Homo sapiens: one gene and its partners. The protein of the gene in region 2 interacts with the protein of the main gene of each other region in a biochemical or structural test. Each region holds a gene or a part of one and is shown on either strand. Other genes may lie near its edges.

Region 1 (8,639 bases), on a different chromosome or scaffold from region 2:
TCAAAAAAAAAAAAAAGAGAGAAAATTATAAGGAAGAGAAAATAAAATACATTTATAGTACTGTGCTGTACTGATCACTTCTGTACGTTTACACTGCTCATTTACAAGATGAATTGTCCGTCTGAAATGGTAGCAACTGCAGCTGCAGACCTCAATCTAATGTATACATCAAGCAACTCAACTTTTTCTTGTAATATCATGGCTGTTCTTGCCTTCTTGGGAGCATTTTCAGCATCACTAGTGGCATATGGATCCTATGGCATTACTCAAAGTTTATGGTATTGCACTAAACACGATGAAAAACGCCTAGGAACCCTGTGAGTTCACTTTTTACTGCAGTAGGAATGTACTGGAGAGGTGAACTGCTCCTTCGGAGATGATGAGTGTCACGTGGTGTTTCAAGGGGATACTCACGACCCTTGAGCTCCACACAATGGCAACAGGAAGTGGCATGAATTATTACAGTAGTACAGTACCTATTACAGTTATTCTTAGGCAGCCCTGATTTAATACTGCACCTCTGCACTACGTTTGTTAACATCTCTCTACGGCGAATGCTGTCATGTATGGTCTGTAAGCGTTTGCATGTAGCCTCTTCTTTTTTAGAGACAGGGTCTTGCTATGTTATCCAGGCTGGACTCCAAAAGTCCTAGGATTAAGGGATCCTCTCATCTCAGCCTCCCGAACAGCTGAGACTAAAGCCAAGAGCCACCATAGCTGGCCATATGCTTAAGTTTTGACAAATGTTACCTTTTCATAATAGACTTGTGTATATTTTATGGCAGTAAATAAAAGACTAGTATCCTCATATATTTTATGTATTCATGACATACCTAACATTTTCTGCAGACTTTGGGTGATAATGACAAGTCAACGTAGACCCACTGACTGTGGGCAGATGCTAGGAATGGAGGAGGCTGTCTGAGGAGAGGGTACATGGAGAATCTCTGTACTTTCCTCTCAATTTAGCTATGAAGCTAAAACTGCTTGCAAAAACAGCGTTTATAAATTTTTTTGAGACAGAGTCTCGCTCTGTCGCCCAGGCTGGAGTGCAGTGGCGCAATCTCAGCTCACTGCAAGCTCCGCCTCCCGGGTTCACGCCATTCTCCTTCCTCAGCCTCCGGAGCAGCTGGGACTACAGGTGCCTGGCGCCATGCCCGGCTAATTTTTTTGTATTTTTAGTAGAGACGGGGATTCGCTGTGTTAGCCAGGATGGTCTTATCTCCTGACCTCGTGATCCGCCCGCCTCGGCCTTCCAAAGTGCTGGGATGACAGGCGTGAGCCACTGTGCTGGGCCCAAAATGTATAAATTTTTTAAAAAATGGGAGCAAGCATGGGCTCAATTAATTCCAACGGTCAACGCTGCCAAATTACTAAGATTTCTCTTGCCCTAAGGCACTTATCTCACCAACCTCAGCTTCTTTTTTCTTCGCACGAACTTTTTCCACTTCCATAAGAATCTTCTGGGATTCATCCACATTACCTTCAGCCCCTAGCTGTTCGGCTTTAGCAAGGAGTTTTCCTATTTCTTCATTTAACTCATGTACTTTTTCTGCCTGTGAGGAGAAAGAATGAGGTAAGCAGACATCTGAAAATGAAAGTGAATGCAAAGGCAACAAGGGTTTCTCCTGCTCCATTTCCAGTCTGAAAATAAGTGGAAGAGCTAAAGATCCACACTTAACAATGAAGGCATCCTTACTGCCAGCATTGAGACTGTAACCATAAACGAGTCCTATGTTCCAATGAAACCAGTGGCACCTTTGTCACTTCCGACATGCTTCCAAGGATCATCACAGATTGGTCATTGTCTAGGCTGTCTCTCTTTATGACTTTTTCTTCTGGGTATGGTAATAAAATGCCTAGGTTTAAATGTACAGATTTAAGCTGTAACCAAAATACCTAATTACTAGGATTTACCTTCTGAAACAAAATAGCACCGTTGGTCAAATTAGCAATTGCATAAATCCTAAGAAATGCTTTTACAACACTGAAAAGAAAAAACAAGGAGAGGCTTAGTTCCACTGAAGAGAAAAACAGAAGAGTGATGTAAATGGCACTCAGTCTAATTACATATAAATCTACCTCCTTTTCATTCTATGATATGGATGTACCACAGTTTGACCATTTCCTTACCAATTCTTTCCAGTTTTATGTGGAGATATTAAAGTTTAAAACAACATGCAGAGGCTGGGCATGCTGGCTCACACCTGTAATCCCAGCACTTCGGGAGGACAAGGCGGGAGGATTGCTTAAGCCCAAGAGTTCCAGACCAGCTTGGGCAACAGACTCCATCTTTATTAAAAAAAAAAAAAAAAAAAAAAAAGATGGCTGGGTGCAGTGGCTCATGCCTGTAATCCCAGTACTTTGGGAAAACGAGGCGGGCAGATCACGAGGTCAAGAGATCGAGACCATCCTGGCTAACACAGTGAAACCCCGTCTCTACTAAAAATACAAAAAATTAGCTGGGCGTGGTGGTGGGCACCTGTAGTCCCAGCTACTCAGGAGGCTGAGGCAGGAGAATGGCGTAAACCCAGGAGGCGGAGCTTGCAGTGAGTCGAGATCACGCCACTGCCCTCCAGCCTGGGCGACAGAACAAGACTCTGTCTCTTAAAAAAAAAAAAAAACCGACAATAATTTTTTTTTCTTTTGAGGCAGGGTCTCACTCTGTTATCCAGGCTGAAGCAAAGTAGCATGATCACAGCTCATTGAAGCCTCAATCTCCCCAAGCTCAAGTGATCCTCCCACCTCAGCCTCCTGAGTAACTGGGATACACATGTGCACCACCAAGCCTGGCTAATATATGTATTTTTTGTAGAGATGGGGTTTCTTCATGTTGCTCAGGTCTAAAACTCCTGGGCTCAAGCAGTCTGCCCCCACCTTGGTGTCCCAAAGTGCTGGGACTACAAGCATAAGCCACCAAACTCAGCGAAGAATATATTAAAATTAAAAAATAATGATAAACCATGTACAGAGGACGAAAATGGAGAGAATAAAAAGACAGAGGTAGCAGCTCCTGAGGGATGAGAATTCCATGACACATGAATGCTTGATCACAGCCCTCTATCCTTAACTGGAGTAAGGCAGAGAGTACTGTCCACACAATCAGTGCTGAGGGTCAGTTAATAGCTATTGACAACGCCGGGCGCGGTGGCTCACGCCTGTAATCCCAGCACTTTGGGAGGCTGAGGCAGGCAGATCACGAGGTCAGGAGATCAAGACCATACCGGCTAACACGGTGAAACCCCGTCTCTACTAAAAATACAAAAAATTAGCCGGGCATGGTGGCGGGCGTCTGCAGTCCCAGCTACTCGGGAGGCTGAGGCAGGAGAATGGCATGAACCCGGGAGGCGGAGCTTGCACTGAGCTGAGATCATGCCACTGCACTCCAGCCTGGGTGACAGAGGGAGACTCCATCTCAAAAAAAAAAGCTATTGACAAGCCAGTATTTTTAAGAACACACCAGACACCGAAGCCACCCAAGCATACCTTTGCAGAAACTTCCGCACTGATTTCCTCCTGTGTTTCTGCCAGCCGCTTCTTGGCGAGCTCAGTTCTCCGATCACATTCAGCAATAAAGGACTCCAAGTGATCCATTGCCTAGCACGGGAAAAGCACAGCGCTATAATCAATGATGTGTAAAGCGTAAAGTCTTAGAACCCATTTGCTTGATAGGAAATACACTCCTAGGTTCGTTTCTTTAAAGCCTGTACATTCAAGGGAAAGATCTTAAACTACACTACCACTAACGCATTCATAATTGCATTAAATCAAGGGGATCTGTTAAACAGAATGATTGTTTGGAAGCATGGTCTTCTCATTTGATTTACTTATTTCCAAAATTTGTAAAAGGACCTCCAACCCTCAATAACATTACAAAGAAATTCTGAGGAAAATTAAAACACTTGGCAGCAATTCATAGAGTTCTCGGAGGGACAGAAAAGGCTGAGCCTAGACTCGTGCTGGAGGCCCTCTTCTGGGGAGTTGTGAGAGATGCATATGATGTACTCACTGGTCTTTGTGAGCCACGTAAATATTATTCCCTCATGTTCTGAGGGTAGGGTCCCCCCTTTCACCTCAAAAACAAAACAATAGAACAAATATTACTGAGAGCTATGAATACATTTTGTTATTGCCTACTATCTAAAGTAGCAGGAAAAATTGGTTGCTATTTACCCAAAGAGATAAAGGAAAAGAAGCTGTAGACGTCAAATTGCTTACTCTGAAAAGGGTGGTGGGAAACATTAAGAGAACTATCATATGCTAAGGTTAATTCACCATAACTAGGCAAAGGCTAACATAATTTCAGATAAAAACAGAGACAGGACCGGACGCAGTGGCTCACACCTGTAATCCCAGCACTTTGTGAGGCCAAGGTGGGCGGATCATGAGGTCAGGAGTTCAAGACCAGTCTAGCCAACATGGTCTCTAATAAAAATACAAAAATTAGCTGGGCATGATAGCGGGTGCCTGTAATCCCAGCTACTCAGGTGGCTGAGGCAGGAGAATCGCTTGAGCCTCGGAGGCAGAAGTTGTAGTGAACTGAGACCAGACCACCACACTCCAGCCTAGGCAACAGAGCAAGACTCCGTATCAAAAACAAAAACAAAAACAAAAAAAGGCAGGGCCCAGTGGCTCACACCTGTAATCCCTGCACTTTGGGAGGCCGAGGCGGGAGGATCCATGAGGTCAGAGGTTCAAGACCAGCCTTCCCAATACAGTGAAGCCCCATCTCTACTAAAAACATAAAAATTAGCTGGGCGTGGTAGCATGCACCTGTAGTTCCAGCTACTCAGGAGACTGAGGCAGAAGAATCGCTTGAACCTGGGAGGAAGAGGTTGCAGTGAGCCGAGATGGCACCACTGCACTCCAGCCTGGGCAACAGAGCAAGATTCCATCTCAAAAAAAAAAAAAAAAAATAGGGCATCACTTTTCCGACTGTCAGCCAGTGACCAGTAGTAAGAAACACTAACATTAAACCATGAGTCAGCTTGCTAATGTCAGCATCATGATAAACATAAATAAGTTTGTTTTGCAATGATGACAAGGTTAGATAGCATGATCTTTTACCAAAAACTAAATTTTAGGTGGAGATGAGAAGGCAGATGACAGGAAAACACTAAGGGGTGATAACCTAAGTCACCGCTCCTAAAACAGACAGGAGACAGTAGGTCAGCTGTAATAAACTGCTCCACAATGGATTACACAGACACTGGAGAAGATTGTGATCTTCTCTAGAAATCTTAAATATTTTTTTCAAAAACATGCATACTTGGGAGTAGGTAAGATAGGGAAGAACCTCCAAGTCTCCTGGTGCCCAGTCTCCCAAGAAGCTGGAGAAAGCACAAGCAGCATCACTGATGAAGGCTGACTCCCAGATATCACTCCATAATTTTGGAATTCAAAAACTGCCTCTTGGCCAGGCGTGGTAGCTCACGCCTGTAATCCCAGCACTTTGGGAGGCCAAGGCGGGTGGATCACTTGAGGTCAGGAGTTCGAGACCAGCTTGACCAACATGGAGAAACCCCATCTCTACTAAAAATACAAAATTAGCCACGAGTGGTGGTGCATGCCTGTAATCCCAGCTACTTCGGAGGCTGAGGCAGGAGAACTGCTTGAACCTGGGAAGCAGAGGTTGCAGTGAACTGAGATCGCGCCATTGCACTCCAGCCTGGGCAACAAGAGCGAGACTCCCTCTCAAAAAAATACATAAACTGCTTCTTGTTGGTCACCCAGATATTCTCTAGTCAACATTTCAGTATGTTCAAATCAAAGAATCAGGAAAACAAATGATCCGGCATTTGACTGCTTCTATGCACCTGTACACTGGACTTTCTGGAAAGGTGAAGAGCTGGCTGGAGCTCATCAGGATCCAAGTATTAAGGAGCTGACAAGGGTCACTGTGCCTTCTCTTCTGTGCTTACCTCAGACAACAGCCCCTAACAGACCAGTCTGAGATGCTCCAGGTTCACCCACACAGTGGCCCTGTACTGTCTGCTCAAGCTGAGCAATCAATCACCAACCTGAGACAGATTCAGGGATTCACTCGAGGGGTCAAATGGGAAATAGGCAGCTGACAACTCTCCCAATACCTAAACCCATCAAAGCAATTACCTGCACCTTAAGCAGAATCCAAATTGGCTATGGACTCAGATGTCTGATAACCTAAAAACTAAATGGTGGCCGGGCGTGGTGGCTCACGCCTGTAATCCCAGCACTTTGGGAGGCTGAGGTGGGCGGATCACGGGGTCAGGAGATCGAGACCACCCTGGCTAACACAGTGAAACCCCGTCTCTACTAAAAATACAAAAAATTAGCCGGGCGTGGTGGCGGGCGCCTATAGTCCCAGGTACCCGGGAGGCTGAGGCAGGACAATGGCATGAACCCGGGAGGTAGAGCTTGCAGTGAGCAGAGACTGTGTGCCACTGCACTCCAGCCTGGGTGACAGGGCAACACTCCGTCTCAAAAAAAAAAAAAGAACACTAAATGGTAGGCCCAGCACGGTGGCTCACGCCTGTAATCCCAACACTTTGGGAGTCTGAGACCAGCCTGGCCAGTATGGTGAAACCCCATCTCTACTAAAAATACAAAAAATTAGCCAGGCGTGGTGGCGGGCACCACTGGTTGCTATTTACCCAAAGAGATAGAGGAAAAGAAACTCTAGACGTCTAATTGCTTACTCTGAAAAGGGTGGTGGGAAACACTAAAAGAACTATCATATGCTAAGGTTAATTCGCCTTACGAGGTGAATCCCAGCTACAAGGGAGGCTGAGGCAGGAGAATCGCTTGAACCTGGGAGGCGGAGGTTGCAGTGAGCCAAGATCACGCCACTGCACTCCAGCCTGGGCGACAGAGCAAGACTGGCTCAAACAGAAAACAACAACTATAAATGGTAAACTTCACAACAGAGAACAAGCCAACCAAGAGCTGCCAAGTTCTTTAAAAGGTGGCTTTCTGTTCTACTGCCCTCTCCCTTCAAAGTGTTTCTCAACTTTAGCCTGTTTCTTAAAAGAGCAGATCTAAATGATAAAAAAAAGACATTCGATTCCAAAAATTAAGTCCTAATCACAACCTACCACTTACTAGAAAGTCACCCAATCTCTCTCTATCTCTGAGTAGCGTTATGAAACATAAACCCTAAAAGCCCCTGAGCACAGACAGCACCAGCACAAAGACTTGTGTCCTAACAGTATGGCAAAACTGGACAATATCAGCACACGTCATCTCCACTGAGGAGGCTGTCCCTCCACACACGGACTGCCTGGTGCTGTTACCAGCTCTCCCGGCCCAGCAGCACTGACACAGGCCGGTGGTCACTGAGCCTGAGAAAAGCCCATGATGTCAGTCAGAACTGTCACAGCAGACAGGTGCCCTTGTGCTGCACTAGGCACGTGCGCTAAACACCTCCAAAGAGCCGCAGAGGGGCCGGGCGCGGTGGCTCACGCCTGTAATCCTAGCACTTTGGGAGGCTGAGGTGGGTGGATCACCTGAGGTCAGGAGTTTGAGATCAGCCTGACCAACAAGGAGAAACCCCATCTCTACTAAAAATACAAAATTACCCAGGCGTGGTGGTGCATGCCTGTAATCCCAACTACTCAGGAGGCTGAGGCAGGAGAATCACTTGAACTCGGGAGGCGGAGGTTGCAGTGAGCTGAGATCGTGCCATTGCACTCCAACCTGGGCAACAAGAGCGAAACTCCATCTCAAAAAACACAGCCGCAGAGGAGCTCGTCGGGTCTCCATTGCATGGATGATGAAAGTGAAGCACAGCTACCAAACCACTAAGTAAGCAATGGAGTCAGGATCCAAGGACCCTTGTGGTCTGGCTCCAAAGACCTGCACTTCATCCTCACAAATCTGAGGCAGCCATCGTCAGCCCAGTTTATAGATGAAAAAAAGAAGGTGAAATAACTTGCCCAGGGTCACACAGGGACTCTAACTCAAGACATTTGACCTAGAAAAATGTCACTCTTATACTGGACAACTGTAAGACAGGAAAACTACATACAATCAGAACTGGTCTCATGTGGTATATTAAAAACAGCTTTGAAATGAGCCCATATATGTTGTTTTGAAAACTTTTCAAAACATCACATGGCCAGACAACATGGGAGTAAAGGTTAATTACACTTTTGGTGAATTACAAAGACACATTCATTACATTTTCAACATGTGAACACTAAAGAAATATACCTTTTTTTTTTTTCCCGAGAGGATCTTGCTCTGTCACCCAGGCTAGAATACAGTGGCACGATCACGGCTCACTTTAGCGTTGACCTCTCAGGTTCAAACCATCCTTCCACCTCAGCCTCCAAAGCAGGTAGGACTATAGGAACACGTCACTACACCCAGCTAACATTTCTGATTTTGTAGAGACTTTGCCCAGGCTGGTCTCGAATTCCTGGGCTCAAGCAATCTTCCGGCCTCTGCCTCCCACCAAAGTACTGGGATTACAGGCGTGAGCGCACACCTGGCCATCTGTAACTTTTTCAGAGCTTAATATGATTAATATTGCTGTTTGACAGTTTACAAGTTGAGAAACTTAGTTTATTTATAGACTGCCTTATAACAAATATAGCACACATCCTTTCCTAGGCAACTTCCAGATAAAACATATCAAGGCCTGGGTCTTTTGTGGTCAG
Region 2 (5,687 bases):
TGACCTCATTCAGTCATGTTTTTACACTTTGAACCTCTATTTATTTCCTTTTGAAAATTAGCTAATGATGGTACATTAACGCAGCTCACTTAGGGCTCAATCCTAATCACAGCTTCAAATTTTAGAAGAACATATAGGCCAAGTTTGCCATCCTCAATTTGTCCAACAAAATTCTATTTATGGTATTTAGTAAAGAAACATTTGTCTGAGAAGAAATGGTTTTACATCATCTATCCTGATAGTTTCAAACAGAATAAAGGTAACTAGCATGTGAAATAAAAATATTCTTCTTAAAAGGTTTGTCCTTCTAAGCATTTTAAATTCTTCACTGGCTTGAAATGTGCCTACTACAGAAATATGCATACAGAAGCTTTTGTGTGAACTGCAGAATCTTATACATTTTGATTCCTTGATGAAGTATATACTCTAAAATACAGTCTTCTACCAAAATTTCATTCAAGTTATTTAAAAGGGGGAGAAAAAAGGAGAATTTAGGAAATAACCTGAACTATGGATAGAAACTGAAGAAGTTCTCTACTCCAATGGAAAGTTTCCTTACTTTATCGTGGTAACTAGTTATGTATGGTCCAGGTATGGGAAGAAGCAAGTTAGTAAATCGGTTTTCACCTAAGAAGTTTATGACTCGGAAGATCTTATATCCACCTTTTCTCTGCCTTTGGGCAGTTCTGTCTGCCAACTTCTAGATAGCCAGCTCCTGTATCTGCTATAAACACATATGTGATCCACTGCTTGTCATTTTCCATGAAGATTTCACATGGACTACAGAAAGGAAAAGATAGATAGGACATTCAATTGAAGTCAGAGAGCTAGTTATAATGTTTAGCATAACCAGTGGTTCTCATTTAGTTTTTGTGCATTCTTTATCAACAAGCCGCCAAGAATCTGATAAAGCCATATTATGCCTAATACAAATGTATATTCCTTCTAGAACAACCGTTTCTGTATTATAAACTAGTTAGGCTGTTTTATCATAAGGGACACACCTGTAAAAATTCATAATCTAGTTTATTTTCCAACATAAGCAAAAACTGCATTAGACAAATTTCATTCAAGTATACTATCACCCTGATAAAAATCCTTTTACACTTAGGGAAGATATAAATTATGCCCTATGGTTCTTGTAAGGATGTTTCTCATAGAAATCACGGATAGCATCACCAGTCTACAGCCACTATCTATCACAGAATTTACATGGAAACCTACAGCCTCATTAGAAAAACTTAGCATGCAAATTTCATAAAGAAATTAATGAATGATCCATTCTACCTCACAGTGGTAATGTGATATAATGGTAATTCCTAAGAGGATTATGTGTCTTGTTTCCTAACAGCAAATGCTGTTTTGTTTTAAATTTGCAATGATCAAACAAATGCAGTTAGTATGTTTTTGATGAACCATGGATGAAAAGGGATCATTGATATTCTAGAGAATCAATCTATACTGTAGCTTTTCTCCTAAATCCCTTCTGCCCTTAAAAAACAATAAATGATTTCCTTATAATACGCCTCAATGCATGTTCTACAACTACATCTGCTGCAACAGGAATGCTGGTATTTAGTTTTAGTGACACTACTCTGATAGCAAATGTTCATTGATTCTATCATTTATAGGGCAATGACCAAGGCAATGTCTGGAAAAAAAAAAACCAAAACACTTTAATTTTTAAGACAACTGCAAGCACCTCAAACAATGGATTATTGTTACAACACTTGTTAGCTTTTCACAATCTAGTTATTGCAAAGGCATATGGATAAATGTTAATGGACAAAGTCAAAAACGAGGCACCTTAATGAATGTAAAATTTAAAATAAAAAGACATTCAATCCACTGACTTCTAAAAGAGGCTAAATATACCTCTATATATTACATTCTAAAATTGTATTGCCTACTATGGTTTGTATCCTGGAGTCTACAATTAATTTTAAGGAAATGCATAAACAAAACTGTGTGCAACCTGCAAAGGGAAAATCATTTTCTCAACTTCGTTTCATGGAAAGACAATGAAAAAGCTAGTAAAATTTGTTGTAGCCACACGTAAAGCTACCTATGGAATGAATGTGATCACTGTTATCTTTGAGCTGTGAGAAGTATTCTGCCCACTGCACTGCAAATTGTATATACCATACCTTGTGTTCTAGACAAGCATGATCATGCTTTTCCAAAAATATATGTATTTTTTCATTCCACACAATTAACACGTTTCTCCAATTTAATCTATGTAGAGCTTAACTTACAGCGCCCAGAGGAGGCAACATGACATGGTACTGAGCCATCACATTTTTAAAGGGAAATTGCTCTTCTTTAAAAGTACTTTTAAAAATATGCAAAATCACAAATGGGACTGCTAAATTATAATGCATATTTTAGAATGAGAAACATATCTTTTCTTCCTTTAAAGTGCCATATAGAGAATGACATCTTATAACCCAGAGCCACTTTGTTTAAAATCCAATGTGAAAAGACTGTTATGGAATGAAAAGTTTGCACAACTCCTTGGAGCAGTTAAAGTCCGCTACATGCAACATAGGCTACAAAGCACTCAAGACTTGGTAGCTTTTCTGAAATTTGAGTCCCCCTCCCATATTTAATGGAAAGTAACATTTACAGGGTGCATTTACATACACTATAATACAGGAATGATGTCCCTTTGCCAGAAGATAAAATTGTACATTTCCTTGCTATTTCTTGGTTCCAACTTGATAATTTCTTAAGATTGTAAATTATATAGTACTCAGCTAAAATATTTCTTCATAAATAGTTACAAAACCTGCCAAAACACAAAGGGGAAAGTATTTTTCATTCAAAAAAATGACATTTGAATGTCACACAACACAAGAAACAATGCTTAGAGACATGTTATTGTTTCCAGAAGAAAATGGTCAGTAAACTACTTAGCTGAAGACAAAAGACTACCCTTCCCCAGGATCACAGTGCACAAAAAGCAAAATGTCAAACAACAGTACCTCAAAGCAAAATAAAGGTCTGAGGATGAAGCCAGCTCACTTGTAATCCTGTTAAAGAATGAGAGTCACCGTTTAGGTCCAATGTACTGGGAACATTTGCTAGCTCAGAATGCAATATTGGTAGAATTTGCTAAGAATTCAACCAAGGATGCCGAAGGCATTCGCCAGCTGAGGCTCGTTTTTCTGGAACCATTTCTAACATCGGGATCAGGAAATCTGTAAACTGTGCAGCATCTTCATGGGGCCAGCCATACTTTTCCACAAGTACATCAAAGAGGCTCCAGGGCTTCAGCTTGGTGATGTGTCGCAGTTCTCCTACAGGGGAAAAAACAGGCCAATGTCAAGAAAGCTCCAAATCTGCATTCCCCATTGTTGGTCCAGTCAGGTTCTTTTCAGTGAAGCGGACAACCACCTGCTCAACACTTGTACAGCAACAACAAAGAACACCAGCTTTTCCCCACTAAGCAATAATCATTACATGTACATATGACCAAGGCATATTTCAAGTAAGCCTGGTGGATCTAAATAGAGGTTAATTAATAGTTCATTCACATTAGTTCTAAGCTTCTTTAAGTAAGTGGAGTGGGCTCAGTTTGCCCAGAGTGTTTTCTTTTCCAAAGGTTGAAGCAAGCCACTCTCATTTCAACCTGGGATCTTCCGTAAAATTTGCAAACTTGAGGCCAACCCAAATCAAACACCATTCATGTCTACGCATTTGTTGTAAGATCTAAGATCCTAGGACATTAATTTGTAAACCTTGAAGTTATACTTCACAAACTGTGCTAGCTGCAGTATGAAAAGTGTCGGTTACAGGCAGCTTTGGTTGACATAACAGAATGACTAACAAGCTAGTAAATGGCCTACGAGCTGTAATGGTCATTTCATAAGAGAAAAAAAAGGTTATTTTTAAGTCAAAACTGCAATAAAGGGCTGAGGGCAGTGGCTCACTCCTGCAATCCTAGCCGTTTGGGAGGCTGAGGCAGGAGGATCCCTTGAGCCCATGAGTTTCAGACCAGCCTGGGTAACATAGACCAGACCCTGTCTCTACTTAAAAAGAAAAAAAGTAGCTGGGCACGGTGGTACATCCCAGCTACTCAGGAGGCTGAGGCAGGAGCATTGCTTGAGTCCAGGAGGTCAAGGCTGCAGTGAGTCAAGGTCATGCCACTGCACTCCATCCTGGGACAGAGCAAGCGAAACCCTGTCTCCCCATAACCTTTTCAAAAAGGCAATAAACTGTCAAAAGCTCCAGATAATTTCACTGTGAATAACTCGTTTTCTCTGCCTGTTTGAAGTTTTCATAGGACATCCCACCCCTGCCCACAGACCTCCTTAGGTGCCCCTCAGTGCATCCTGAGCAGCTTCTGCAGAGGAAACACCCCCCTGTGCCCACACCTCAGAGCAGCCAGGTCTCGGTGGGGGGAGAGAGGCATTCAAGCACCTGCAGGGCACACTTCATGCAAGGACTGACTTCTCTCCCCTTTCAACTGCTTTAATTTAAACAAGGTACATTTTTTTCATGAGATGCATCAATAGATAATCAGTGCTCTGCTCACAAAGGTGTTCTCAGGAGGCTTGTTCTGTTTCACCCATTTATTCGAGTCAACTTGGAAAAGCCCTCCCGTTTAAAAACACAATGAAAAGGAAAGAGCATTACAGAAAAGTATAAGAACAAAAGGGGAAGTAGCCTACAATCCTACCCACAACTGCTCTTCTTTTGTGTCTATTGTGAAGAGTGTTCTTACACACTAGTATGTCTACAAAGTTGCAATCATGCTGTGCACAGGGTTCCGTATAAAGAATCTTTTAAGAGGGCTGCTTGCTAAAGGGGCTGAGATGTAAAATAAGCTTCTGTTTCCAATATGAGGACTGGAGCTAGAGTAAAGCATCGCATCCAGACTAGACATCAGGTCTGTGTTGATGAAGAAATGAACCTGTAATATTAGAGGCGGGAAAGGATCTCCTGTTGAAGGAAACACAGTCTCCATAAAAACAAAGTCTGAACAGAGACTGCAGGTTTATCCCTCTAAGCCTGAAATTCCGGCTCTAGGAATCCAGCCCAAGGAGATAAACCCTGGTTGCACCACCCCAAATTCATGCCTAATATATGCTGGCACAAAATTATATGTACTCGCAAAATTACGAAGAGCCAGTAATAGTAAAATGGTGGTTAAAAGAAAACCAAGGTAGATTCACTTAATAGTATTTAATATTACTTAACAACATGGGAGAAGATCATGGTACAACATTAGGCAGTAAAAGAACAGTCAAACTATGTCCTACAGATAATCACAAGATTATTAAAATGCTCATTAAGATGGAAATCAACTGAATCAAAACATCAGCTTTTGTTAGTAGGTTATTTCAATTTCCACATTTTCTGTAATATGACTATATTGATTTAGACTGTTGATCTCACCACAGCAACAGTTAAAGCAAACTAAGAAAGCTCACATGTGACTAAACCAAGTTCTCTGGGAAAGGGAGCGAACTTTTATGACATGAATCTATTCTATCTCAGAAAAAATACTCTCCAGGTTTGCAAATATAGGTAACTACAGAGAAGCACTGTGTGCTGAGAATAGTAAAGGAACCTATTTCTGAGGCGCCAGGTGTTAAACTAAGATCCATCAACAAGGCATCTTTTAAGTACAATCTTCCATGAAAAGAGAAGTTTTACCACTATAAATGCTTAACAGCTGCATA
Region 3 (8,639 bases), on a different chromosome or scaffold from region 2:
AACTCTTTTTTTTGTTTGAGACAGAGTCTCGCTCTGTTGCCCAGGCTGGAGTGCAGTGGCGCAGTCTCGGCTCACTGCAAGCTCGGCCTCCTGGGTTCATGCCATTCTCCTGCCTCAGCCTCCCAAGTAGCTGGGACTACAGGCGCCCACCACTACACCCGGCTAATTTTTTGTATTTTTACTAGAGACGGCATTTCACCGCGTTAGCCAGGATGGTCCCGATCTCCTGACCCGGTGACCCACCTGCCTCGCCTCCCAAAGTGCTGGGATTAGAGGCGTGAGCCACCGCCCCTGGCTGGAACGACTCTAATAAAGCATTAACAGCTAGAAAATACCTAACTTTTGTTAGGCACTTACTGTGTGCTCTGTGCTATACTTAGCACTTTCAATGCATTTCTTGTTTATATACCAAGCCATAAATTAGGTAGCATTATCTCCGTTTTACAAGGATTGAGAAAACACATGATTTGACCAGTAGTGTCACAGACTTAGTAAATTACGGAGTCAGAATTTGAACCCAGATGACTTACTTTTTTCCAAAACCAGCAGTCATGTTTATGTGTACTTGTTCTTGTATTGTTATTAAATATATCTTCTTTCTGTTTTAAAATTCAATATATGGCCAGGTGTGGTGGCTCACACCTGTAATCCCAGCACTTTGGGAGGCCAAGGCAGGTGGATTGCTTGAGGTCAGGAGTTCAAGACCAGCCTGGCCAACATGGGGAAACCCCGTCTCTACTAAAAATACAAAAATATGCCAGGCATGGTTGCTAACACCTGTAATCCCAGCACTTTGGGAGGCCAAGGCAGGCAGATCACCTGAGGTCAGGAGTTTGAGACTAGCCTGGCCAACATGGCAAAACCGGTCCCTACTAAAAATACAAAAATTAGGCTGGGTGTGTTGGCACATGCCTATAATCCCAGCTACTTGGGAGGCTGAGGCAGGAGAATCGCTTGAACCCAGGAGGTGGAGGCTGCAGTGAATTGAGATCGTGCCACTGCACTCCAGCCTGGGCAACAGAGCAAGATTCTGTCTCAAGAAATAAATAAATACATAAATAAAAATACAAAAATTAGCTGGGCATGGTGGCGGGCGCCTGTAATCCTCGCTACATGGAGGCTGAGGCATGAGAATTGCTTGATCCCAGGAGGCGGAGGTTGCAGTGAGCCAAGATCGTGCCACTGCACTGCAGCCTGGGCAACAGAGCAAGACTCTGCCTTAAAAAATAAAATAAAATTCAGTATTTCTTTTGATTCTTAGAGTAATCCTGTGAGGTAAATAGGTTTTATTCTAGTTTTACTGATGATATATTTGAAAGTTGATCAATATGTATGATGTTCCCACAGCCATAAATGGTAGCATGGGAACTTGAACTCAGGTCTCCATATTTTAGCTGTCTTTCTTCTGCTGCATTCTACCTCCACAATTGCAGCTTTCTTACCTGCCAAAGAGAAGAACATGTTTATCCACTACTGTCATGAGAACAGCTAGTTGTAAAACTCAGGAACTTCTAGGATGGCCTGTTGTTTCACTGTCATCTGTCTCTCAGGTATGTCCGCATGCTGGGGGCACTTTACATGAGGCTGACAGGCACTGCAATTGATTGCTACAAGTACTTGGAACCTTTGTACAATGACTATCGAAAAATCAAGAGCCAGAACCGAAATGGGGGTAAGTATGGTGCTAAGTCTCCTGATTGTCATTTTTAAGCCAGTTTTTATTTTACCAGTACTTCTACCTTTGCATTGTCATAGACAGTGTGAATGCTCCTTTTCATCTACATTGTTACTGTCTCTATGCAGGTTTTCCCTTGTCCCTCATGGGAGTTTTCAGTCTGACTACTAGCTTCGTGTTGGCCTTACCCAGCCTGCCTCTGTCTGTCTCCCTTTCCAAGTGCATCTTATGTTAATCCCTGCCTTGCATCATATGCCCCCTTTACATGTGCTCCATCCCAAAAGATCTAGCTGCAGAATGGCTTCTCCATAAAAACCTTCCCCAGCCCTCTCAGACAAAATTAGTTTTCCATATTTTACATCTTCACAGTTCTTTCTACTGGCCTCTCCTCTAACACTGTAATTCACACTGCAGCATATAAGACTACTCATTTTTATACAGGAATCCCACTGAAAAATAAGTATATCCAAGAGAGGCAGCTCCATACCTTCTACAAGGAGATTACTTAATGTGCTAAGGAGGGATTCCAGGTAATGCAGTCAAAACCTTTTCTCACTTGGTGTCATAACAGAAGATAGGAACATTTACCTTTCCCCCTACATGTATCATTAAACAGTAGAAGGTTAAGAATTTGGGGCCAAGCACGGTGTCTCACACCTCTAATCCCAGCACTTTAGGAGGCCAACATGGGCAGATCACTTGAGGTCAGGAGTTTGAGACCAGCCTCGTCAGTATGGTGAAACCCTATATCTACTAAAACTACAGTAATTAGCAGGGTGTGGAGGTGCACACCTGTAATCCCAGCTACTCAGGAGGCTGAGGCAGGAGAATCCCTTGAACCAGGAGGCGGAGATTGTAGTGAGCCGAGATCACGCCGCTGTATTCCAGCCTGGGCGACAGAGCAAGACTCCATCTTAAAAAAATAGAATTTGGTATTATACTTTAAACTTATTGATTCATTCATTGAATAAATACATATTAAGTGCCATTGACATGTCACATACTGTGCTATGTGGTGTAAATACCATGGTGAACAAGATGGACATGGTCATGGCCATGATGGAGTTATTTATTTATTATTTTATTACGTAAAACTAAGAATTTCTGAACCTATTGACATTTTGGGTCATATAACTTTTGTGTGAGGATTGGCTTGTGCATCATAGAATGAGTAGCAGTATCTCTAGCCTCTACCCACTAGATGGAAGTAACACCTCCTTCTAAGTAGGGGGATGGGCATGTGCAAAATTGCCCATGGTTGAGAACCCCAGAAGTAAGGTAATGTTTACCATGGAAGTTCTCAAAAGCTATATATGTATATGTATGTATGTATATATATGTATTTGTATATGTGTATATACACACACATATATATACATTTTATAATTATATTTACATACAAATATATAAATATACATAATCATATATAATTTATATATAACATAATTTATATATAACATAATTTATATATAATATAAATTGCCTGTAATCCCAGCTACCCAGGAGGCTGAGGCAGCAGAATTGCTTGAACCCGGGAGGCGGAGGTTGCAGTGAGCCAAGATTGCACCACTGCACTCCAGCCTGGGCAAAAGTGAGACTCCGTCTCAAAAAAAAATTTTTTTTCTAACTCTAGCCAAAAACAATATTTCCTTATTAAAAACACCTCAGCTCTGCCATATACTAGTAGTATAATCTTACGCAAATTACTTAAATTTAGTTTTCTCCTATGTAAAGTGAGGTTAATGATACTTTTATATATATATAGATGTATATATATATATACACACACACACACATATATATAGACATATAATTTTTTTTTTTTTGAGATGGAGTCTCACTCTGTTGCCCAGGCTGGAGTGCAGTGGTGTGGTCTCAGGTCACTGCAACCTCTGCCTCCCAGGTTCAAATAATTCTCCTGCCTCAGCCTCTTGAGTAGCTGGGATTACATGTGCCCACCACCATGCCCAGCTAATTTTTGTGTTTTTAGTAGAGATGGGGTTTCGCCATGTTGGCCAGGCCTGTCTTGAACTCCTAACCTCAAGTGATCTGCCTGCCTTGGCCTCCCAAAGTGCTGGGATTACAGGCGTGAGCCACCACTCCTAGCCAGTTCTCAAAAGCTATCACTCCATGTGCCATATAAGATACATGTTCTAAATTCAGAAACATTGAAGGTTCAGATGAGAAATTATATTTAAGTTATATGATCTCTTCAAGATCATCCCTACATAATTCAGGACTGTTTGTGCTTGTTTTTGTGTTTGTCTCCTGCTAATTGGGACATCTTCATTCATCCCTTAATCTCTTCTAAAGAGGCCTAGCACATAGATGTCCTGATATGAAGTCTTAACACTTCTTTTACTTTTTGGCATCTAAATCTTTTATTTCCAGGTTGTTTGCTCTAATGACTTTTTCTTGCAGAGTTTGAATTGATGCATGTTGATGAGTTTATTGATGAACTATTGCACAGTGAGAGAGTCTGTGATATCATTCTGCCCCGACTACAGGTAAGAAATAAAAGTCTGTTACCAGAGTCACCCTTCTCTTCCTAGACGGGCAGACAGACAAACACATACACACAGCTTAAACACTGAAGCCTGTGGATCTTATGGGTCCTCTTAATGAATAGTCTTCCTGTCTGGGAGTCCCAAGATAGTGGATTGGGAGTGAGAGGAAAATAGATAAAATATTTGAAGGGTAGGGCTTTAAAAGTGAATGGTTTAAAACAAGGAAACTTTGTTTTTCTCCATCCTTTTGTAGTTCAGGTGCATGTGTGAGTTGTGCCTCCCTCAAACCTTGTTACAAAGTCAGCACATTACCTGTCTATCATGAAAAAAGAAATTTATTCAGGATGTTACATCAAGGGTATTGTAGCTAGAGTAGGTAGGGAGTTTTTAACTTCATGAACGTTTTTTTTAAACTAATCTTCATGTAAAAAGCCAGGACATAAAACAGATAAAAATAGGGCCAGGAGTGGGAGACTGAGCCATTAATTCCTTAAACTTGCCTTCACCATCCTGCTTCCCTTTCCTAGTGATAAACGATTATCCATGAGGCATCTTTTCAGGAAATGAGTGTGATACAGCTCTCCTGTTCCATGTTGGCACTGTAGGGCATGTAGTGGAAAGAATGAGATTATAAATTTGAAAACCTACTTTGAGGGCCCAATTCTTATAGCAAGACAATGTCTTGCTGTGTTGCCCAGGCTGTTCTTAAACTCCTGGGCTCAAGGGATCTTCCTACCTCAGTCTCCCAAGGAGCTGGGACCACGGGTACATGCCACTACATTTAGCCATTTGGCATTTTTGAAATCAGCTTTGCCTCTCTGATCCTTAGCCACTCAAATAAACATTGCTAAGCCATATCCCAGATTAAAATGGAACCAGTTCAAAATGCATGAATATCAACAGCTCCCGAGATCCTGGGTCTACTGGAGATTTGGTACTACTCTAGGGCTAGGCCTCTTCTAGTGGAACTACCAGCCATGAACTTATTAGCCCTTGGATTTTCTCTGTGTGTGAAGCCCTTACTTTTGGTTCTAGGCTGTACCTATACTGATTGATATTCCCATGACTTTAGAGTATAAGGTACAGGGAATAGAGTCAATAGAAAATGAAGATGTTCTCTTCAGGTTTGTATTTATGTTTATAGGAGAACTTTATAGATTTCAGGTCTATTAAACTTGTTAGGAAAATCTTGAACTGTCTTTGAAATGAAATTGCCTCAGCTGTTGCTCCTTGGAACCCTGAAGCCCAGTGTTGAGGTTTCAAGAAATAGGGGAAATGGCAACAACCCCTAACTCTCATCATTTTCTCTGTAGAAACGCTATGTATTAGAGGAAGCTGAGCAACTGGAGCCTCGAGTTAGTGCTCTGGAAGAGGACATGGATGATGTGGAGTCCAGTGAAGAGGAAGAAGAGGAGGATGAGAAGGTCTGGCACCTGAGACTTTTATGGTTGTAGGGGAGGGAGTAATAGAAAATGGGAATGGTTTTTTGTTTTTAGACTTTAATTTTTAACTCTATTGGCCGGGCGTGGTCGCTCAAGCCTGTAATCATAGCACTTTGGGAGGCCAAGGCGAGTGGATGACCAGCGGTCAGGAGTTCAAGACCAGCCTGGCCAACGTGGTGGTGAAACCTCGTCTCTACTAAAAATACAAAAATTAGCCAGCGTTGTGGTGGGTGCCTGTAATCCTAGCTACCCAGGAGGCTGAGGCAGCAGAATTGCTTGAACCCGGGAGGCAGAGGTTGCAGTGAGCCAAGATCGCAACACTGCACTCCAGCTTGGGCAAAAGTGAGACTCCGTCTCAAAAAAAATTTTTTTTCTAACTCTAGCCAAAAACAATATTTCCTTATTAAAAGCACCTCAGCTCTGCCATATACTAGTAGTATAATCTTACGCAAATTACTTAAATTTAGTTTTCTCCTATGTAAAGTGAGGTTAATGATACTTTTTTCCCCAAGACTGTTAAAAGTATTAAATAAGATTATAAACTTAAAGCCCTTAGCAGAGTATTGGCACATTATAATTGCCTAATAAATGGTGGCAGCTATTAAATACTTGGAAAGAAAGAACACTTTCATAATTGCACCTATCCTAAGGAATAAACCTTGTTTAGGAGGGGGAAAATGTCAACCGCATAGTCATGTTCTTTCAGTACTAGTTACGGTGCTGAAAAGTTGAAAACAACCAAGCTGCCCAGTTGTTCCAGGAAGCAAACTTTTTTTTTTTTTGAGATAGGGTCTTGCTCTGTTGCCCAGGCTGAGGTGCAGTGGCTCACTGCATTCTCGGCCTCCCAGGCTCAAGCAGTCTTCCCATCTCAGCCTCCCAAGTAGCTGGAACTACAGGCACGTGCCAGCATACCTGGCTAATTTGTGTATTTTTTTTGTAGAGATGGGATTTCACCATGTTGCCCAGGCTGCAGATAAACTAAACATACACACATACACACACACAGGTCTGTTTCTGTTCCCTCTCCTATGAGTCATTTTGGCTGTCTTATATAGCTCATAATAAGTTTTGTTAGTTAATAGGGTAAGTGCTTCCCTCTTTGTAGTCAGGTTACTGTGCTTTAAAGTCACATGGAGATGGACTTTGGGACAAGATGGGGCGTGAAGTATAATTAGTGTTCCTAGATGGCTCTTTATAAGCCTGTGCCTTTCAATGACCCAATCATCTTGTTTCCAGTTGGAAAGAGTGCCATCACCTGATCACCGCCGGAGAAGCTACCGAGACTTGGACAAGCCCCGTCGCTCTCCCACACTGCGCTACAGGAGGAGTAGGAGCCGGTCTCCCAGAAGGTAAAGCCTAGTCATTGGCCTTTTCCCAGAAGATTTTGAGCACTGTAGCCTAGAAGTTTGGATTTTAGAGAAGGAAAAATGCACGTCTATGGAGAATGTTTGCCCAATATATTAGTTATCTGTTGCTGCAAAACAACCACCTATAAAACCTCATTGGCAGACAACAATAACCATTTGTTCCTTTCACAAGTCTGCAGTCAATGATTTAAGCAGAGCTTGGATAGGCAGTTTTTAAAGTACCTGTTCTGTTGTCGGCTGTCTACTGGCTGGTATGGAATTGCCTTAGCTTGGATGACGGGGGAAATTTCTCTTCTCTGTGTCATCCTCTAGCAGGCTAAGTTGGGCATATTCTCATGGTAGTGGCAGAACTCAAGAGCAAACAAACCCGGTCATGCAAATGTTTTTCCAGTATCTGCTTTTATCACATTTGCAAATATCTCATTAGCCAAAGCGAGTCATGTCACCAGTCCTAAAGTTAGAATGGGAGGGTGCTAGAGTTACGTGACAAAAGACATGGATACAGAGGTGGGTGATACAGAGAAGCGTGAAGGATAAGATTGGGGCCGTTTTTGCAATCTACCACATCCAGTGCGCCAACCTAGGCTTTCTTCTTCCTCTCCTCTTTATAGGCGGAGTCGATCTCCCAAAAGGAGAAGGTAGGCCTTCAGTCATTTGTGATGAAGGATAGGGCTTTGGGGAGGGGGTGGTGGTATTGGTGTTATATGTATATTGCTAACCAGATCTGGTAGTCTGACCAGTCTTTTCTACAGCCCCTCCCCTCGCCGAGAAAGGCATCGGAGCAAGAGTCCAAGACGTCACCGCAGCAGGTCCCGAGATCGGCGGCACAGATCCCGTTCCAAGTCCCCAGGTAAAGCTTGTGGGCCTTTTGCCACAGGTTGTCTTAACAAAGAAATGTAAAAGGAGTAGTTAGCCTCCTGCAGTACAGGAGTGCCTGACTGTACTGCCTAACAGAAAAGCAAATGGACATAGAATTTGAAAATTAAGGTTCACAGCTTGACTGTCACTTATAAGCTTTGCTGATAAGGTTTGCTTTAGTTTTTTCATCTAAAATTGGAGGAATAAGATCTAACATAATAGTGAAAACCCAATATGATGTTTGTGAAATTAGTCATAAAGCCCTTGAATGTATATGTATTTGAACTGGTTTCATTACTACTTTCTTTGCTCCCTCTTCCTCCACTAATTCAGAGTTGCTTCCACTAAGAGGTGTCCCCTGCATAGGCCAAAAGAATATTAAGCCAATGGCAGGTATTAGGGGAGGTGAGAATGACAGTTTAATAAGAGTAGAAGGGTAGGATCTTATGCAATGGCCTTTTCTTCCCCAGGTCATCACCGTAGTCACAGACACAGGAGCCACTCAAAGTCTCCCGAAAGGTAATGAATTGACCTCTATTTTAACTTTACAGAAATAGTCCAAATTACAACTAACTGGACCTGAAATTTTCTTGTTTTGTTGGGGGATGTTAGGAATTCTCCTGCATTACAAGACAAAATTGGTCTATTGCTTTGAGAATTACTGGGGTTAGATAACTTTTTCTTTTTTCTCTTTTTTGAGAACTGAGTTTCGTGCTTGTCTCCCAAGCTGGAGTGCAGTGGCGTGAACCTGGCTCACTGCAGCCTCTGCCTCCCGGGTTCAAGCTGATAC
Region 4 (8,639 bases), on a different chromosome or scaffold from region 2:
TGGCATGTGCCTGTAGTCCCAGCTACTCAGGAGGCTGAGGCAGGAGAATTGCTTGAACCCAGGAGACAGAGGTTGCCGTGAGCAGTGATGCGCCACTGCACTCGAGCCTGGGCAAGAGAGCCACATCAGGTCTCAAAAAACAAAAAACAAACAAAAAAGACTAATAACTGATTTGTTCCAAAAGTGTATACTAATCTATGTCACCATCTAAAATCCTTCTGGCACCTATATGTATGATACACAGGTTCCCAAAAGAAAGATATAATTAACAGTGGAGCTGTGAGCAAATCCAAAACTTCCAAGCCCAGAGTACCCTCTCCACCTAAAATGACACCTCTGAGAGTCATCTGTTAGCTTTTCAAAGTAGCCTAGAAGTCTCCTGCTCTGTGAAACACATGCCTTTCAATGCAGAATGTCCCCAGTTTTCAAACTTCAAATAACCTAAGTATTTTGGCACTCTCTCCCTTCATACATATATATAAACAAACCCATCTCTCAGGTACAGTGTTACTCAAAAACATCTGAAAAATAGAAAAGGAGGTCAAAGTGTCTGCTAATCTAAACTCAGTAAGGTGAAGGTTCTCCTTCAACCCATATTGTTAATCCAAAGCCTCAGGCTTTGTGTGCCCAGAACAAAATTAGGGATATTAACTATTAATAGTTGAAGAAATGATGGTTTGACAGTTCTGTCTTGAATTTCAATGGTTTCATTTCAACTAATTTTCTCTCTCTACCAAGATACATTCCTAGAAAAGTCAGGTAGAATAAAACCAGCAGCAAAATTGCTTGTCTCCTTGAAATTCTGACAGCACAAACTCTGTGAAACCCCCCTTCATGTAACCATTAATGGCATAATCTATCATCTAGTCACGAAGACAAAATCTCAGCTTTTGACTATTATTTTCCTACAAGCACCTACTTTCATACCTTTAGTCCAACCAATCACATCAAGACCAATCTACTTCAGAAATTCTCCCAACCTCCTCTCCATTCCAACATTTACAATGTTTACCATTTAACACATCTTTTTTCCTCTAGCCACAGGCCTGTTTCTAAAATACCATCTATAGGACACAATCCCAGAACATGTAATACAAAGCCCTTTACAACTAACATTCTTTACAATTTACTTTACAGCTGGCTGCTCCTCAAACACATCAAGGCCCCTCACAACTCAATCTTTGTTACATGTGTCATCTTTGACCTGTGAGTTCTTGAAGATTTGTCTATTTCTAATGCACTGACATATTAATATATTTAGCCATGGAGTAATAACAGCACTCTGAAAACCTCTAAGAATTTCATACTCGTTACTTATATACTGTATTACTAGTCATGCACCACATACAAAATGTGCTAAGTTTAAAAAGTCCTCAGAAAGACCATTGAACTAAACCAGTCTTTTTGAACCAGGTTTCTTGCTCACCAAGTCTCCGCTGTCATAATAAAGCCTGTTATCAAACCTGCCATTTATTGGCAGTTTCTATTTCGTGTTGCCCAAAGTTCTCCAAATAAGAATTAAAGAGGCCAGGAACGATGGCTCACATCTGTAATCCCAGCACTTTGGGAGGGCGAGGTGGGCAGATCACCTGAGGTCAGGAGTTTGAGACCAGTCTGGCCAACATGGTGAAACCCCGTCTCTACTAACAATACAAAAAAAAAAAAATTAGCCACGCATGGTGGCAGGCACCTGTAACCCCAGCTAATTGGGAGGCCGATGATGCACAAGAATTACTTGAACCTGGGAGGTGGAGGTTGCAGTGAGCCGAGATCGAGCCACTGCACTCCAGCCTGGGCAATAGAGCAAGACTCTGTCTCAAAAAAAGGAAAAAAAAAAACAGAGAGAGATGAGACGACTCAAGAAAAGAGCTGACAGTAAATCAGTCTCTATGAAGGCTAGCAAGATGTCCCACAATGACTGAGAGTTCTTTTAATTCTAAAAGGTGTCCATCCTCAGGCGTAAGAGTTACCTTTTGAGGCTGGTAGCACCAGACGGGTTTCATCTATGTCTCTAACTGGCAAGTATCCTGATGTAGGTAGGGTCCACGAGATATGACAAAAAAGAATGACTGTCCATAAGACAGTGATGTATCCTTTTTCAATTGTAATGTCGCATCCATTTTCAATCAAAACGTCATTCACATACCATAAAATTCACCATTTAAAAGGGTGCCACTCCGTGGTTTTTATTAGTTCTGCAATATCACCATTATCTAATTTGAGAACAATTTCATGGGTGATCAATTATAAGGGAAAGTGGGGTTCCAATTTATTACAATCTGAAGAAAATATATCTAGTTTATATCTAGATATAGTTTTAGTATGAAAACACTGCAGTATTTGTGGCACAAATCAGAAAACACATATAGATCAAGACTTTTATGAGAATTTTTTAAAGAATTATAAGAATAGTGCCAGGTTGGGCCAGGTGCAGTGGCTCATACCTGTAATCCCAGCACTTTGGGAGGCCAAGGTGGATGGATCATGAAGTCAGGTGAGGAGTTTGAGACCAGTCTGGCCAACATACTGAAACCCCATGTCTACTAAAAATACAAAAAATCAGCTGGGTGTGGTGGTGTGCACCTGTAATCCTAGCTACTCAGGAGGCTGAGGCAGGAGAATCTCGAGAACCTGGGAGGCGGAGGTTGCAGTGAACCGAGATCTGCACCACTGCACTCCAGCCCGGGAGACAGCACGAGACTCGTTTCCAAAAGAAAAAAAAAAAAAAAAAAGAAAGAAAGAATAGTACCAGGGTAGCTGTTGACGAACATCAATTTCATGTATATGCCAGCCTACCTAAGGACTTAAAGATCTATTTTTAGAGTACTTCCCAATCTCGCTTAATTCAACAACTACAGCTTTGAATACTTGTGCATTCCCAACATTGTGATAAAAATTCACTTTTATTACAACACCTTTCGCAAAACAAAACCAGCGCCTTCAAATGAATATTAAAAAGAGGGCCAGGCGTAGTGGTTCACACATGTCATCTCAGCACTTTGCGTGGCCAAGGCAGGGAGATCCCTTGAGCCCAGGCGGGTGGACCACCTGAGGTCAAGAGGTCAAAACCGGCCTGGCCAACGTGGACAAACACTGTCTCTACTGAAAATACAAAAATTAGTTGTGTGTGGTGGTGCACACCTGTAATCCCAGCTACCTGGGAGACTGAAGCAGGAGAGTCGCCTGAACCCAGGAGGCAGAGGTTGCAGTAAGCCAAGACCAACCCACTGCACTCCAGCCTGAGTGCCAGAAAAGACTCCATCTCAAAAAAAAAAAAAAAAAGGGGGGGGGGGGACAGTGATTTTTACTCCGATTTACATATGAAGACCCAGAGCTTTCACTCAGAGCCAATTTCCCATCTTCTTTGATTAAACAATTTAACATAGTCAATGAAGTATCGCTGTTACCATTTAAAATAAAAATCTAAACCTTATGATAATGAATCTTCAGAATGACTTCTTAGAAGATATTAATACCATTTTTCTAAGTTGTTATTCCACCAGGTCATACCCAACCTATTTCCCAGGTCCAAATTGACCTAACATTTTCCAAACCAGCAAAAAACTCCTGTATCTGCCCCTCTCCCCACTAAACAAACACTCCTCCTCCTTTCACCTTCATTAACATCTATCATGTAAGACACACACTCAATTCCTCAATTCTCCAACCCAACTTGAGTAAGTTCCCATCATGTGGACACCTCCTAAAATTCATTTTCCCAACAAAGATCTCAGTACTCTAAAAGTCAGCTCTTTGCCAGCTATTACCTAGTTGCTCCACTAGTTATCAGTAATCATTATCTACTGGCTGACGTTAGAACAATAGAAGACATTACTTTTCACTGACAATAACATGCAGCAATATATCCGACAGTAACTACTAGTATCGGCTGGTGCAAAAATAATTGCGGTTTTGCTTTTTACCGTTCAAAGAAATGTCAAAAACGGAATTACTTTTGCTCAAACCTAATATATTGTTGTCTATTGAAAATCTGAAGAGGCCACCAATTTCTGTGAAGATATTTCTGCAAACGTGATTTCTTTAGATTTCTCTGCAGTATATATCTCATTGTCTCAACTAATGTTTTCCAAATTCCCTGCTCAAATTTTCAAATTTCCCCATTCACAATGTGCCTTGCCAAGAAAAGACTTTTTAATGAGAACTATTTTCAAGAAGACTGTCACTGTATACTGCTAAAACTTGATACACTCATAAAAAACATCAACTAAGAGTCCATGACATCCCTGAAATTATACCAACAAAAGTGTGAGTTTATTAAACTGGTCTGAATTGAGCCATGACAAAGAAATAGGATAATAATACACAGAAACACAACCACGTCCTTAATCTTTTATTAATGATTCTCAACTCTGACTGGACAAAAGAACACATAGAAAGCACTGAAAAATATACTAGTACTTAAGAAAGTCTGCATAAGACCAGTTGTGTAAGAATCCCTATAGGAGAAGCTGGCATGAGTATATTTTAAATGTGGTCAAGCAATTACCATGTGCAGAAAGGGTTAAAGGGCAGATGCTTCAGACAAACTCACTGGGTTTCAGTGCCTTCAAGACACCTGACCAATAATTAACCCATCTATGCCTAATGTTCCATTACTGGAATGCTAAGCTTGTCGGAGTTATTTATATCCTACTGCATTAGGTCATTACCAAGGTCTGATTGCAAAAATTCAAAAAATTGCAATTTCAGGAATAAATGGGCTGAGTTCACTAGTAATGTCCTGATTTATTTTCAACTGGAAGTTCTCCATTGATTTTTATTTTGTTTTATTTTTTGAGAAGGAGTCTCACTCTGTCACCCAGGCTGGAGTGCAGTGGCGCGATCTCAACTCACTGAAACCTCCACCTCCCGGGATCAAGCAATTCTCCTACATCATCCTCCTGAGTAGCTGGGACTACAGGCGCGTGCCACCACGCCCAGCTAATTTTTGTATTTTTTTAGTAGAGACGGGGTTCCACCATATTGCCCAGGCTGGTCTTGAACTCCTGACCTCATGATCCACCTGCCTTGGCCTCACAAAGTGCTGAGATTACAGGTGTGAGCCACCGTGCCCAGCTGATTTTTATTTTTTAAGAATTTCAAAAATTTCAACAAAAATAAAAATGAAGAATTACAGAACTCCTTAGTTTTCAAAATGTTCACACATAACTGTAAAAATCTGAGGAAAGGGCTGGACACAGTGGCTCACACCTGTAATCCCAGCACTTTGGGAGGTCAAGGCGAGTAGATCACCTCAGTTCAGGAGTTCGAGACCAGCCTGGCCAACATGGTGAAACCCAGCCTCTACTAAAAATACAAAAATTAGCCGGGAGTGGTGGTGCATGCCTGTAACCCCAGCTACTTGGGAGGCTGAGGCAGGAGAATTGCTTCAACCAAAGAGGCGTATGTTGCAGTGAGCCAAAATCACGCCACTTCACTCCAGCCTGGTGACGAGAGGAAAATTCCGTATTTAAAAAAAAAAAAAAAAAAAATCAGGCCAGGCGTGGTGGCTCACGCCTGTAATCCCAGCACTTTGGGAGGCCAAGACGGACGGATCATGAGGTCAGGAGATCGAGATCATCCTGGCTAACACGATGAAGCCCCGTCTCTACTAAAAATACAAAAAATTAGCCGGGTGTGGTGGCGGGCGCCTGTAGTCCCAGCTACTCAGGAGGCTGTGCCAGGAGGCGCAGCTTGCAGTGAGCCAAGATTGCGCCACTGCACTCCAGGATGGGCGACAGAGCGAGACTGTCTCAAAAAAAAAAAAAAAAAAATCTGAGGAAACCGCTAATGTCAAATGAAAAAAACATTTTGATGATGCATTAATGATGCTCAACCACACCATTTTATTATGGCATTCAAGGCCCTTTACAATCTGGATTTGAATTCCTTTTCGGGCCTTACTCTTCTGGCCTTCTAATGACTACGTACCATATTCTGTGAGGTTATTTCTCAAACAGAAAGTCTATACTTTCATGTCTGACACTTTCAGTGTATACTTTATGGTATTTAACGGCTGACTTGATTCCTTTACAACTCCCATGCATGACTGATTAACTCAGTTCAAATGTTAAGCATTCCCCAATCAGTAATTTTTATTCCAAAATCAGACTGAATTGTTATATACAGTAATAACATTAAAATACTAATGACTGGAATACTGGCATTATAAGACAAATAGTATATAAAGTAATATGCTTTATATATTGCATGTTTAAAGTCTATTGCATACAATAGTTTGCTCCATATACTTACATATACTGCATGAGTTTGAACGCGACAAGCCAAATAAGTCTTAACATTTCCTTCATGTTAACTGAGACTGATGTTATCAGAATGTCAATGTGGTAACACTCTTAAGCACATCATCCTATTTCCTGTTAAGCATTTGCTATCAACAGTTCTAAATCTGTTACCCAAAGCCACCCATAACCCAGTCCCTAGTCACCACACTCAGCGAATTTTTTTGTATTTTTAGTAGAAACGGGTTTCACCACGTTAGCCAGGGATTATGAAATAATGCATTAAAATCAGTATCACCCTACCTAATAATCTACTTAATGATTTAGAAAAAGGTGTTTTTTTGTTTTGGAGTTAGGGGAGTATGTTTGAAAACATCTTTGATGTTCATCACCACAAACCAGAAGAACGAAATGGTTCTCACTAAATAGCTGTTTAGCAGAAATACAAAACATTTTAACATACCTATCATAATAGTCCCGTTGAAAGTCATAGTCCAAGTCAAAAGAGGAGCTGAAAAATAAATACCGAAAAGGGTTAATTTGGAAATGTTTCTACTAATTCACAATGTCAGGTGAGGGGAGAACCATGCCAAATAAACCACAACAAATAGATCAACAAGATTAGCACTGAATGATCCCCAATCATTCATACAATAAATCACTCAATTCCAATCACCTTAGACCACTGGAAATGTAGCGGTCAAATTGGAAATTCAGGTTAAAATTCGCTAAGATTTCCACATACGACATAGCTAAACTAAACACTGAAAAACAGAATGGTAAACTAAGCATTCTTATACCACACTTCTACCCTCTCTTACTCTCTAGTGTCTTAGAAGCTCAACGATCCTGTATAAGTATTTCAGGTTATGCTATAAATATCAAACTACTCTTTAATATCAATAGCAAAAACCTCAGGGATTTTTAATTCTCTAGAAATTTTCTCTAGGGCAAAAAAGAGACATATTAACACAAAAATAATAAAACCTTATTTATACACAGATAAAACACAGTACACTTAAACCTCCCCACACCCAGAAAACAGAAAGAGAAGATGCCCACTGATGGACACAATGCAGTTATAAATAATAAAGTTCCGGACCTGAGTAGAGGGGACGGAGAAGGGTGTTCTGTTACTGACCCGTACATCTCCGCTGCAGATCGTTTCACACCTGCTTTTCCTCGGTTCACTTTTGGCTCTGCAGCCAGGTTAATATCTGAAAAACAAAAGTAAAAATGTTAATGACAACTTTGTATCCGGGTAAAACAAACTACAAAGTTTATTTTTTTTATTTTTGAGACATAGTTTCGCTTTCTCGCTCAGGCTGGAGTGCAGTGGTGTCACCTTGGCTCACTGAAACCTCTACCTCCCGGTTCAAGCGATTCTCCTGCCTCAGCCTCGAGAGTAACTGTCACTACAGGCGGGCACCACCATGCCCAGCTAATACAAACTACGAAGTTTAGAAAATCACACAGACACATAAATTAGAAAATGTGGAACAAAACAACTCATCTTTCCTTAAGACACTGTCTCACTGTCATACAAGCTGGAGTGCAGTGATGCAATAATGGCTCAATACAGCCTAGACCTCCGAAGCTCAGGTGATCCTCCCACCCAAGTAGCAGGGACCACCACGCCTGGTTAATTTTTCTATTTTTCGTAGGGACGAACTCTTGGGGTCACGTGATCTGCCTTGACCTCCCAAAGTGCTGGAATCACAGGTGTGAGCTATCAAGCTCAGCTTCATCTCTCCTTTTAATATTAAAAAGGCTCACAAATTTTTACAAGGCTAAGGCTTCATCTTCCGTTTCTTTGTAGTCTGTTCTTTACCATTCAAGTGTTCCTGAGACTAACATTAAGTCTGTCTTTGGTACTCTCCACCCTCAGATACCACTTCAACTCAACTCTCCCCATTCAAGGTACTGACTGTTCACTCAGTTACTATTACAAGAGAAAACTATCACTGGTTGCCTTTCCAAGAATGGTTCAGCTCATTCCGAATTATTACAAATATATTAGAATGAAATATATTAAAATATATGCCAATTCACAAATTAACATAGTGAAGTGTGACAACCTCAAATCATCCTCAAAGGCAACTTCAGATTTTCTTTATAAGTAAGGATTAGCTGTTCTACACGTAAAATATCCTGGGTTAACGACTGCTTTCTGAATAATTGATCAATTGCTTAAACAACCTTTACACACACCAAAAAAAATAAAAGAGCAAAGGGAAACAACCCTGGTTTTCAAATACAATTTGTAACACGTATGCCCAGCTACCTACCCTGCCACCCACTGCCTACCAAACAAGAATTTATCTTCTCCTTGTTCTAAAAAGCCCATGTCAAAAAGCCAAAAACTCTCTAAAATTCAGTTTACCTTCCCAGTCATGC

What was found.
Region 1: of the proteins of SRPK2 (region 2) and LUC7L, one has a biochemical effect on the other in vitro, tested with the Homo sapiens proteins (2 studies listed by BioGRID and IntAct).
Region 3: of the proteins of SRPK2 (region 2) and PRPF38A, one has a biochemical effect on the other in vitro, tested with the Homo sapiens proteins (2 studies listed by BioGRID and IntAct).
Region 4: of the proteins of SRPK2 (region 2) and HNRNPC, one has a biochemical effect on the other in vitro, tested with the Homo sapiens proteins (2 studies listed by BioGRID and IntAct).

Annotation. Positions count from the first base shown.
Region 1 is NC_000016.10:204,592-213,230, forward strand, and holds part of LUC7L (putative RNA-binding protein Luc7-like 1), read right to left. Parts: intron 4,074-8,639; exon of another isoform or gene 4,010-4,073; intron 3,598-4,009; coding exon 3,487-3,597; intron 1,557-3,486; coding exon 1,413-1,556; intron 1-1,412. UniProt on the Homo sapiens protein: May bind to RNA via its Arg/Ser-rich domain.
Region 2 is NC_000007.14:105,114,724-105,120,410, forward strand, and holds the end of SRPK2 (SRSF protein kinase 2), read right to left. Parts: intron 3,300-5,687; coding exon 3,115-3,299; 3' UTR 1,651-3,114; downstream 1-1,650. UniProt on the Homo sapiens protein: Serine/arginine-rich protein-specific kinase which specifically phosphorylates its substrates at serine residues located in regions rich in arginine/serine dipeptides, known as RS domains and is involved in the phosphorylation of SR splicing factors and the regulation of splicing.
Region 3 is NC_000001.11:52,407,019-52,415,657, forward strand, and holds part of PRPF38A (pre-mRNA-splicing factor 38A), read left to right. Parts: intron 1-1,550; coding exon 1,551-1,672; intron 1,673-2,467; exon of another isoform or gene 2,468-2,485; intron 2,486-4,096; coding exon 4,097-4,182; intron 4,183-4,423; exon of another isoform or gene 4,424-4,504; intron 4,505-5,495; coding exon 5,496-5,606; intron 5,607-6,860; coding exon 6,861-6,973; intron 6,974-7,602; coding exon 7,603-7,629; intron 7,630-7,743; coding exon 7,744-7,841; intron 7,842-8,319; coding exon 8,320-8,368; intron 8,369-8,639. UniProt on the Homo sapiens protein: Involved in pre-mRNA splicing as a component of the spliceosome.
Region 4 is NC_000014.9:21,223,614-21,232,252, forward strand, and holds part of HNRNPC (heterogeneous nuclear ribonucleoproteins C1/C2), read right to left. Parts: intron 7,460-8,639; coding exon 7,384-7,459; coding exon of another isoform or gene 7,345-7,383; intron 6,754-7,344; coding exon 6,706-6,753; intron 1-6,705. UniProt on the Homo sapiens protein: Binds pre-mRNA and nucleates the assembly of 40S hnRNP particles. Interacts with poly-U tracts in the 3'-UTR or 5'-UTR of mRNA and modulates the stability and the level of translation of bound mRNA molecules. Single HNRNPC tetramers bind 230-240 nucleotides.